Regions from separate parts of the Homo sapiens genome. Here region 1 is linked to region 2. Evidence: fine-mapped expression QTL. A gene starts in region 2. The other region holds a variant in brackets. All regions are shown on one strand. Distances are from middle to middle. Region 1 holds the start of LOC105370163 (a long non-coding RNA gene). Region 2 holds the start of MAB21L1 (mab-21 like 1).

Region 1 (5,377 bases), 380 kb before region 2:
GTATGGCCTATTGCTCCTAGGCTATAAACCTATACAGTATGTTATTGTACTGAATATCCTAGCAATTGTAAGCAATGATAAGCATTTGCACATCTCAACAGGTGTAAACATAGAAAAGGTGCAGTGAAAATACAGAATTGTAATCTTGTGGGACCACCATCGGATATATGGTCCCTTGTTGACCAAAACATTGTTTTGTGGTACTTGACTGTATGCATGTAACTATAATAGTGTAATAAGTGCTGTGATGACCTAGAGGAAACAGGTTAGATCTCATTAATAGGGTCAGAAAGCTCTTCCAAGAGAAAAGGATTTATAAATTTGGATGTAAAAAAGGGCCAGGAGGACATTCCCTCCCAGTGTGAGCTAAGGCACAAAGACATTAAACTATATGGCATAGTTAGGGAATAGTTGCTTGTTCAATAAAAATGCAGGATAGAATTCTAAGAAAGAGTTGGAAAGATGGTGGTAGCCCCGTTGGTTGTGGTCAAATTGCACAGGGTCGTGGAAGTATGTTTGTGCTGTAGATTGTAGGTATTATGAAGTGAAAGGGGATTTTTCACAGTGCCATGAAAGATCGCAGTTGAGTTTTGGAAACAGTGGCATGGCGGTGGAAAAAATTGCTACACATGAAAGGCCAAGGGCCAGGAAGGCTCTATGAGGCCATTGTAGTCATCCTGGAATGAAATTGTCAAGACAGAACCGAAAGAGCTGGGGGAGACCTCAAAGGGAAATGAAACCAGAAATTTAACTGGATGTGAGGCTAGAAGAAGAGAGAGGGATCAGAGATAGGAAGCAGGTTTGTTGGATGAGGAGAGGTAAGGAATGAGTTTCGTTTTAGACATGTGGAGTGTGAGGCGATTTGGAAATGTCTGTAAGCAATTGGAAATAAATAACTGTTCTAAGTCAGGAGATCTGCGCTAACAATATATATTTGGGAGACCCTGGTATATTGTAGTGATTTGAATAATAGAAACATAAGGTACCTCCCCGCTGCCTCAACAAGAGATTTGTAAAGATGAAAATGGAACCATGCATGGGGGAGGGAAGTCTGCATTTCTTTTTTTTTTTTTTTTTTTTTTTTGAGACGGAGTCTCGCTCTGTCACCCAGGCTGGAGTGCGGTGGGCGCAATCTCCGCTCACTGCTAGCTCCGCCTCCTGGGTTCATGCCATTCTCCCGCCTCAGCCTTCGAGTAGCTGGGACTACAGGTGCCCGCCACCACGCCTGGCTAATTTTTTGTATTTTTTTTTTTTAGTAGAGACGGGGTTTCACTATGTTATCCAGGGTGGTCTCGATCTTCTGACCTCGTGATCTACCTGCCTCGGCCTCCCAAAGTGCTGGGATTTCAGGCGTGAGCCACTGTGCCTGGCCAGAAGTCTGCATTTCTAAGAGCAATCAGCAGAAGCAGGGAAGAACAGTAAGAGTACAGGGACAGAAGTCAAAGGGGCAGAAAGTTTTGAGATGAAGGACGGGGCAGAAATGCTTGATGTTGAGATGTCAGGTAGCATGAGAACTGAATGGGGATCGTAGGATTCAGCAGTGAGGACACCACTGTGGCCTATGAAGGAATGGGCAATACCAGATGGCAGGGGGACCTGGTCTGGGAGTGTGATTTTTGGTGGTCACCGTGGGTCCTTTCCCAGGCTGGCTCCAGGCTTTACTCTAGCGGGAGCTGTCCTGCAGCGATTGGTTGGTAGGGATCAACCCCAGGACCCTCATCCACCCTGACCCTTGGTGCTTGTGGTCCCCAATTCCCCTATCATGACCATAGCCTGTTCTTGGATCCCAGCTGATAGGGATCAGATCCAAAAATTTCCTAATTTTACATCACAGGACTCTAGTTGGTCTTTTTTTATTGTTTAATTAAATTTTTTTTCTTGTACCCCAAATCATCACCAACTCTTTTCTCTCCACCCTGTCCACACTCAGTGGGTCACCATTCTCCCTATGGTGATGCCATTGCTGGCTGGTGTCCTCCCACTTTATCTTACATCTGCCCTGGGCACCAATGTCCAACCTGCTGCCATCACCTGTTGTGTGCCAAATAAAGTCTGAACTTGTTCTCAAGTGAAGGACATCTTCCTTTCCACTCATGTCCCCCATTTCTTCTCTGGACCCATGCTCCATCCTAGAAACAAATTTAAATTGTCCCCAGCTTGGGCTTTTCCACCTCATCCCTTTATTCCTCTCACTTGGCCTAGCTAGAATGTCTTCCTCTGTCTCTTCAGCTGTCTAAAGCCCACTCACCCAATTTGGCCCTGCAGACCTCTGCCACTTTCCCGGATCACCTCGCTGTCCAGGGTCTTCCCCAGCCCTGCAGTACTGCAGCAGCTGATTCACAGATGACACGTTGCACCACCTTGCTCAGTTGTAAAGTCTGAGAGCAGGGGTTCTTTGTGCATTCTACAGTGACTGTGAGTTCATGGTAACTACTGGGTAAATGTTGACCACATGAATGAATTGAGAAACACTAGGAGCTGTTGCCTAAATTTCCTGAGGTTTGGAGCCTTTGTAAGTATTTATTTAAAAAATTAATTCACAGAGCTGTGTCCCTGTCTCCCTCTCCTCTGTTCCTGGGGCCCCTC[C/T]TTCCCATTATTCTCAGTAGATGGTTTCTTTGAATTGGACCCATTGTCTCAGTTCAAGAAGAGGAAACAGACATGGAGAAAATCAGAGCTCCACCTCACCTATGAGGTGAGCACCCAAGAAGCTAAAATTAGGGAAAAAGTACGTCTTCTTCCCTCTGTTAGGTAGTTGTCTCTTTTCTCTTGGTCTCAACTGATTCCCTATGCACCCCCCACCCCCTGCATTTTTTTTCCTTCTCAATAATGTGGCAAGCAAGGAACAAAAGCTGAGAAAGAGATTTTAGGGAATGAACAGCCTACACCATGATTAGGGAGTAAAGGAGAGTCTAAGGCAGGAAGCCAGATCTCCCTGGCAGCGTGCCTGAATCGCCACCCCCAAACCCAAGGACACACACATATATGCAAACACATTCTCTCCCCAAATCTTGACAAGTGCAGCACCAGAAATAAATGAGCCTCCTTAAGTGCTAAAAGAAGACAGGGAAACAGTAAGGTGGATTTCACGTCCAAAAAGTTGCACATCTTTTAATTAGATAGTCTCGCTTGGAGATTTCTCTAACTTCAGAACCAATTTGAGACACTTACTAACATTCAGCTTTCACTTGGTGTCTGAGACTTTTAGGAACGCGACTGCAAAAAGAAGTGTTAACCTACATATGCGTGGAAAGTCATTTAAAAGGGCAATGAATTTGTAAATTAAGCCAAGTATTTCCAAATTCTAGATTTTTTAAAGTAACTTTGATGTTTAATCATAAGCATCTTGGGGACAGGGAGCAATAAGAATCTAGCATGTACTAAGTGTACACTACGTGTGCTGATAGGTTGATATCTAGGGCCCTGGACTCGTGGCTCCAGTTAGTGAAGAAGAGTTGGTTCACCTGTCTGAAATGATGAAGGAAAAGGTGGATCTGCACACTTCCTGAGGAGTATTATTCAACAATGCGCTGTGACCGGTATATGCTGTTGGATCCCTGACAGGCTTAGGTGACAGCTGAGTCGAAATAAAGGAGGGTCATGTACCGTCGGGAGGGATAGAAGTCAGCTCTGCAGTGAGATTTCTTCCACAGCTCTTTGGTGGCCAGTGATGTTAATTGGTCATCATGGTATCAGTGAATGATCCATTTTGAAGTTGAGCACTTCTCATTCAAGGGTAACAAGCACAGCAAAGGATGACATTTCCTATTTTTTAAAATAAGAAAATGTACCTATACAGATAAAAGCAAAGGAGACCAGAACTGGGTAAAGGCAGCGGTTCTAATGAGTTCTTTACTAATTCAGAGTTTAGTGGATTCAGATTGAAATAATTAATTGTTCAGCCCTGCTTGGCTGTTTAACAACAACCGTGTTAGTTTAATTGTTCCCATTCAAGATAAAGAATTGTGTAATAAGGGCCTCTGAAAAAATAATGCCATTTTAAGTTGAATTTTAATAAGTTCTATTAAATAAGTCACAAAGCCTTGTTATGGCACTTAGAAACTTCTGGCATTACAGAGTAAAAACCAAGTGTACTCAGTACATGTGTCAAACTTATTTATGAAAGAAAATTATTTATCCCAGCAGTGATTCAACAAGAAGGTGTGTAATGCTTTCTGGATGTCAAGAACCATTTTAAGAAGTTGCTAATGCTCTTCTGTATGGCCAAGAGGAAGAGTCTGAACAGAGCTCTGACCCTAAGAGTACATGCTGTTCCCAATGTTCAGACAAGTTGTGTTCCAAAAGCATTTGATTGTAAATGACTTGTCTGGCACTTGAGTTTCATTTTTCTAGAGATGGCGATGCAAATAGAAGCACTGAGCCCAGTGGTTTTATTAGGTTGGTGCAAAAGTAATTGCAGTTTTTGCTTTACTTTTAATGGCAAAAACCACAATTACCATTGCAATAACCTTGCCTAAAGGAGGCAGATCCGAGTGTCCCGGTGGTAGAGAGAGAAGCCTAGGCATCCTCAGCCCTGCAGATGCTAGGAGGGTTCTGGACATGCCCTGAGGTGCCAGGACCAGCCACTCATGGGAAAAGTGCAAAGTTTTTTGAGTAAGACCTAAATGAAATCCAGCTTTAACTCTGCCATCTTCCAGCTGTTTGTCTTTGGACAAGTTACCTGACTAAACATGTTTCTTCATCTAAAACAGAAAACATTGCACCAACTTACATGGCAGAACTGATGTTACCTAAGGTGCTTCCGTTCAAAGTGTCCAAACTCTCTGTCCTTGCAAACATGCTCCCTTTTGGCCTTAATCTTCTACAGCCAATCAATTACCAGGTTCTATAGTTTTTACCTCTTACATTTCTCTGGAACGTTTCCGTTTACCTCCACCCCATGACACTACCCTAGATCAGCCACGTCAGCATCTCTACCATAGGACCCTTAAATGTGCCCCACTCTCTCCTACCTTGACATTCTCCTTGCACCCAGTATTGTTTCCCTCTAATCCATTCTTGACAGGGCAAGAGCTGGAGAGCATTTTCAAATGCAAGCCTGATCCTGTGGCGCCTGCTTAAAATCTTTGTTTTTGTTTTTGTTTTTCTTCTCATTGCCCTTTGGATAAAAACCAAACTCCCTAACATGAATTTTAAAGCACTACTCACTATGCGGCCCCTGCCTCCATCTCATTCCTGACATTCCTCCGCCTCCAACCCCACATACTTGCTTTACTTAGTTATTTAAGTCTCTTCAGTGTACCACACTGGCCTCCTTTCTCGTATCCAGCCCTGAAACAGGAGATCCCTGGGCTGAGGACACTTTTCCTTCATTGTGCCCCCCTTGCTTCACCAGGCTAACTTCTGTATCCACTGCCCT
Region 2 (5,377 bases):
AGCATGACACACACACAATTTTATTCTAGTAGCACTGAGTATATTTACAACAAAAAATATTGCAAGACTGGTATAACTGGAGTTTTTTAAAAAAACTTTTCACATTAATACATAAATGTATATTAAGCCATCTCTATGTACTACATAATCATTTGACATAACTAGTTTAATAGGTCAAATGATATTTTTTTAAAATTCACTGAAAAATAGTTAAATATATTACTCCCATAAAATAAATATATCCCCCAAGCCTAGATTAAAATCGGCTGAACTGCACAAAAATGTACTGTTATTTGCAATCCCTCTCTATAGGTCATTTCCATAAAAAAATTTCGGGGATGGAAAACACGCTTCTCCGAATAGCTTAATTCTCGCTTCAACAATGAGGGGCGTCTACGATCACTGAAAGGATTCAGCTACAGAAGGCAATTCATTTCACGTGTTCAGTGTAATAGAAAATCACTGTGTTGCAGCAACAAGCAGTACTTGCACTAGAGTATTATTCATTCCAGGGCGCCCAGTTCACCCACAGTGATAATCGCGGACCGGTGAATCCTATGTTATGTAAATCACCTTCAGCTCCTTGTGTGAGGGGTGCTTAAGGAAGCAGCTTAGAAAACACAGTCCTGGCGTCCTTTAAACTAAATGACTTCACTTTCCTGAACACTCTAGATCTAATGAGTTTCCTAGTATACCTTTTCTCACCATCCATTTTTCTTTCTCAAAGTGCAAATCGTTAGTGAAAAGGCGCTGGTTGCACCAATTAGTTTGCACAAAGTGCTTCGGTGTTTAGCTTCGCTTTAACCCAATTAAGCTGCACAGTGAGCCCCGAAGATGCGCCACCTGCGCGCCTGGCTCCAGCCAGGCCCGACCGGCATCCCTCGCAGGCCCGCGTCCTTCCCGTTGGACCCACTTAAGGTCCCCCGAACAGCCCTGGGGCCTCCCCGTCCTCGGCTGTCTCACGTCCTTGACAACCAAGGGTGTTCTGCAGGTGGCCCAAGAAGGCAAGGGGCGAGGTCTTGGGGCAAGCATCTCTGGCCTGAACCCAAGGGAGAGAGCGCAGGGCGCAGGGGCCCGCGGCTGGGGCTTGGCTGCGACCACACCTGGGCCGGACGTGGGCGGTGCAGGCTGAGGGGTGCGTGGGCAGACCGTGGTCTGGAGCAGACGTGGAGAGTAAGCCGGGACACCAAGTAAGGTTTTCAAATAAGCTCACGCAGAAATAAAGCGTAGCGATCTTGAGCCCAGAGAGGAAAGTAAGAGGGCACGGGAATGCGGAGCAGCGAGAGAGAGGCGGCGAGCGGACGGCACAGGGCCACACGCGCCGGGTGAGGGCAGAAGGCGGCGTTTCCCCAGAGACCACTGCACATCCTCGCCGTCGTGGCTGCAGGTTCTCCGGCTCTGATGGGTCTCCCCTCCAACTGCCAAAAGGTAGTGGTGCATTCACCCGCGATGACGGCAAAGTGGGGAGGGGTTTTTTGGGTGTTCCCAGACCCTGCTCTTAAGGGGATGGAAGGTTCTTGGGAAATAGAGTAGCTGGGTGCCACGCACCCCAATGTATACTATTTTCAGCTAAATTGGAATCTATCACTGTTGGATAAGGAGAAATTAAATAATAGGTGGTTTTGTGATGCTGTGCCTGTGCAAAACAAAACACACAAACAAAAATCAAAAGCTTAAGTAGCAAGTGGGAGCCCTGAAGAATATCTTGTTAAAAGTGACTCTGAAAGTGTCTACAAACATGTTACCGGGAGTTATAGGATTTGACGGGAAATATTCTTAATTGGAAAGACGTGGCATCTAAATTAAAGGTAGACAATTAAAAAAATCCACCTAGTTTTAAAAACCACAACGTAACCACTAAGTAGTATTTCTTTAGTTTCCTGTACTTTGAGGACACAACTGGACCACCAACTAGAAAAAAAAATTCCTCCTCCTGTTTCCAGGTTCCAAAATTCAGAAATGAAATGATTTATTTCATTTTTGTTTTCAAAATGATGTTTAAATCCAAAAAACCCCCCAGATAACTGCAAGTTAATTTTCTTTGCAAATGTTAACCATTTTCCCTTAATTAAATCACACGAAATAGTATAAAATTAGAAGTCTACTGCCAGGTCACCACTTAAGGACACTTAAGACAGGAGATATATCCTTAATTATACATCTGTAAACAAGCCAGATACCCCAAACCTTCAATTTTTCGGGATAGTTATCTGTGAGGAAGCTTGATCTCTATGATCTCACCTGAATTTTATGTACTAAAATACAGGTCACTATGAAATAACGCTAAAGTACTCTGTCCATCCCACAGACAATTTATTTTTCAAATGTTTCTATAAGTGCATATATAGCGTTGTGTCCTGCTTGTAATGCTGGGCAAGTCCACCAAAGTGCAAAGACTGCATCTGCTGGGGCAGAGGGATGTACGAAATATTTTTTAAATATCCTAACTTAAACAGGGGTAGAACATCTCACACACTCAGCAATAATTTTCAGATTCAACAAATGGAGAAAAGAAAAAAACATAAGTAAAAAAAGAGCATACTACCTCCATAACGTTTCAAAAAATCATTTTAACATATAGGAACATCCAGAATGAGAAAATTACACAGGTACTCCTCCATCTAAAGCCAACTTCCATATGCCAGTAGTCTGCATGAAAGAACAAACTTTCAACCTGCATTTAAGAAGACCCCAAGGATTAACAGACGTTAATTATCTTACTCTAAATGCAAGTTAGTGATTTTGTTTTAGAAAACCCCGTCAAGATCACTAATTGATGGATGCCCATTAATACACCTGTATTTGCATTTCAGCGGTAAAAGACAAGCAGGTTTTCGGCACAGAAGAGAGCCGCTTTGCCAAGTCTTTTCAAAACGTCAATATGCTTCAAGTAATACCAAAGCTGAGAGATTCCTCTTGATTTCCAAACTGTCTAGGTGGCCTGAGTGGTTTTCCGCCGGCAGCAGCCTCCTACCTTTAGTTTGTGTGCCTATATCCATGAGTGGGGATTAATTAGCCGGGTTGGAGCTGAAGGAGGCTGTCGTGACGAGCCCAGTGGCGATTGGCCGCCCGCCTGCCTGGCCCTGCCTTTATAATTTCCACACGAGTGCATCTGGGCTCTTAGACAAACCAACAGCAGCTTCTTCTGACATATACACACGCACACTCACCCCGGACACACACTCAGCACACTTTTCCTCCATTTGATTAACAGTGCTGCACACACAATGATTACGGGAAAGCGCAAATAAATACGGAAAGGGGTGCTTATTTTGACTACTGGAAGAGCTTTGCTGGGTCTCAGCGCAACTTTTGTTTTTTATTCCTGAGAAGGTGATCTCTCCATGCGGTTCTCTCACACAAGGATTCTTTAAAAGAGGAAGAGAGACAAGCAGAGGGGGGAGGACAGTCTTTCACTTTAAGAACGGCTGGGCTCAAAGATAAAAGGAAGGGAAAAGCAGCAGCAGCAGCAGCAGCAGCAGCAGCAGCAGCAGCAGCAGCAGCAGCAGCAGCAGGGAAACCAACGCTGCAGCACTTCCGAAAGGCATTTTTGATCCATTTCTGAGTGTTGCGGCCCGTTTCTCCACCGAAGTTGGCTCCAGCTCTAGCAGCCGCATTGGATCCCACAGCTTACTGCGAGACTCCGGTGTACAATCCGGATCTCTGCCCCAACATGATTGCGGCCCAGGCCAAGCTGGTCTACCATCTGAATAAATACTACAACGAAAAATGCCAAGCCAGGAAAGCTGCCATTGCCAAAACTATCCGGGAAGTCTGCAAAGTAGTTTCCGACGTACTGAAGGAAGTGGAAGTGCAGGAGCCGCGGTTCATCAGCTCTCTCAACGAGATGGACAATCGCTACGAGGGCCTCGAGGTCATCTCCCCCACCGAATTTGAAGTGGTGCTTTATCTCAACCAAATGGGGGTGTTCAACTTCGTGGACGATGGCTCACTGCCCGGCTGCGCGGTGCTGAAGTTGAGCGACGGGCGCAAGAGGAGCATGTCCCTCTGGGTGGAATTCATTACCGCCTCCGGCTACCTCTCGGCGCGCAAAATCCGGTCCAGGTTTCAGACGCTGGTGGCTCAAGCGGTAGACAAATGTAGCTACCGGGATGTGGTAAAGATGGTGGCAGACACCAGCGAAGTGAAACTGAGAATCCGAGATAGGTACGTGGTGCAGATCACGCCGGCCTTTAAATGCACCGGGATCTGGCCGAGGAGTGCTGCCCACTGGCCACTTCCCCACATCCCCTGGCCGGGACCCAACCGGGTGGCGGAGGTCAAGGCGGAAGGTTTCAATCTCTTGTCCAAGGAGTGCCACTCCTTGGCCGGCAAGCAGAGCTCGGCGGAGAGCGACGCCTGGGTGCTGCAGTTCGCGGAGGCAGAGAACAGACTGCAGATGGGGGGCTGCAGAAAGAAGTGCCTCTCCATCCTCAAAACCTTAAGGGATCGTCACCTTGAACTGCCGGGCCAGCCCTTGAACAATTACCATATGAAGACTCTGGTTTCCTACGAGTGTGAAAAGCATCCCCGAGAGTCGGACTGGGACGAGTCTTGCCTGGGTGATCGGCTGAACGGGATTTTGCTGCAACTTATCTCCTGCCTGCAGTGCCGGCGGTGTCCCCACTACTTTCTACCGAACTTAGATCTGTTTCAAGGCAAACCTCACTCAGCTCTGGAAAACGCTGCCAAACAAACGTGGCGACTGGCAAGAGAGATCCTGACCAACCCGAAAAGTTTGGAAAAACTTTAGAGGATGATTTAATCAAGAGCCGAAATTATTACCCTTCTCAAAGTCCTTATTAAGTGTAAACTTCTGTTCAATTCCTAATATTCCACTCCGCAGTGCAAACAATCTCTTCCTTTAAAAAGGAATAATAATACAATATTTAAACATCATCTCACCCACCCCCACAAGGGGAGAAAAAGTAGGGGAAGCGGATGGAGAAAAACCCAAAGCCACTAGTATTAGAAGACTTCTTTCCACACGATTTCCTATCTCCCTTGAAAAGTACACCGTAACACTCCGTAAACAGCCCAGCTGTAACGCCAGACCGAGACGAACACTCTGCCTAACTATCAAAGGATTATAGCAATCCTGGTGATTTAGGTGCATCTGTCTGTGAGTAAACACGATTTGGATATGCCATCTGAAAGAAACTGTAATGTATATTTTGATTTGTAACAAATATTGTGATCTCACATTGTCTTTGAAAGTGTGGATGTTGGTGTTTTGTGATTTGGTGAACAGAACTTAAATTGCCATTCTGGATACTTCCAGACATTTTCCACTAACAAAGATATCATTTAAAGGTAGATTTCTTCCTGGTACTTTTATCTGTCTTTGAAAGTGTCTGAACTTTAAAAAGTTTACATT

What was found. PIP is the estimated chance that this variant, and not a neighbour inherited with it, causes the effect.
Region 1: its variant is fine-mapped to the expression of MAB21L1 in tibial nerve (GTEx, PIP 0.90).

The regions. Positions count from the first base shown.
Region 1 is chr13:35,857,740-35,863,116 of GRCh38, reverse strand. All of the region lies in intron 5 of DCLK1 (doublecortin like kinase 1), which reads left to right. LOC105370163 (a long non-coding RNA gene) reads right to left here and starts at 5,052. Exons shown (of 3, transcript XR_941855.3): 1 at 4,971-5,052. RefSeq lists enhancers at 4,020-4,559, 5,102-5,377. The variant C/T (reference allele first, on the strand shown) is at 2,587.
Region 2 is chr13:35,474,435-35,479,811 of GRCh38, reverse strand. MAB21L1 (mab-21 like 1) reads left to right here and starts at 3,123. Exons shown (of 1, transcript NM_005584.5): 1 at 3,123-5,377. The coding sequence starts at 3,674. The coding sequence ends at 4,753. All of the region lies in intron 41 of NBEA (neurobeachin), which reads right to left. RefSeq lists enhancers at 241-1,037, 3,551-4,547.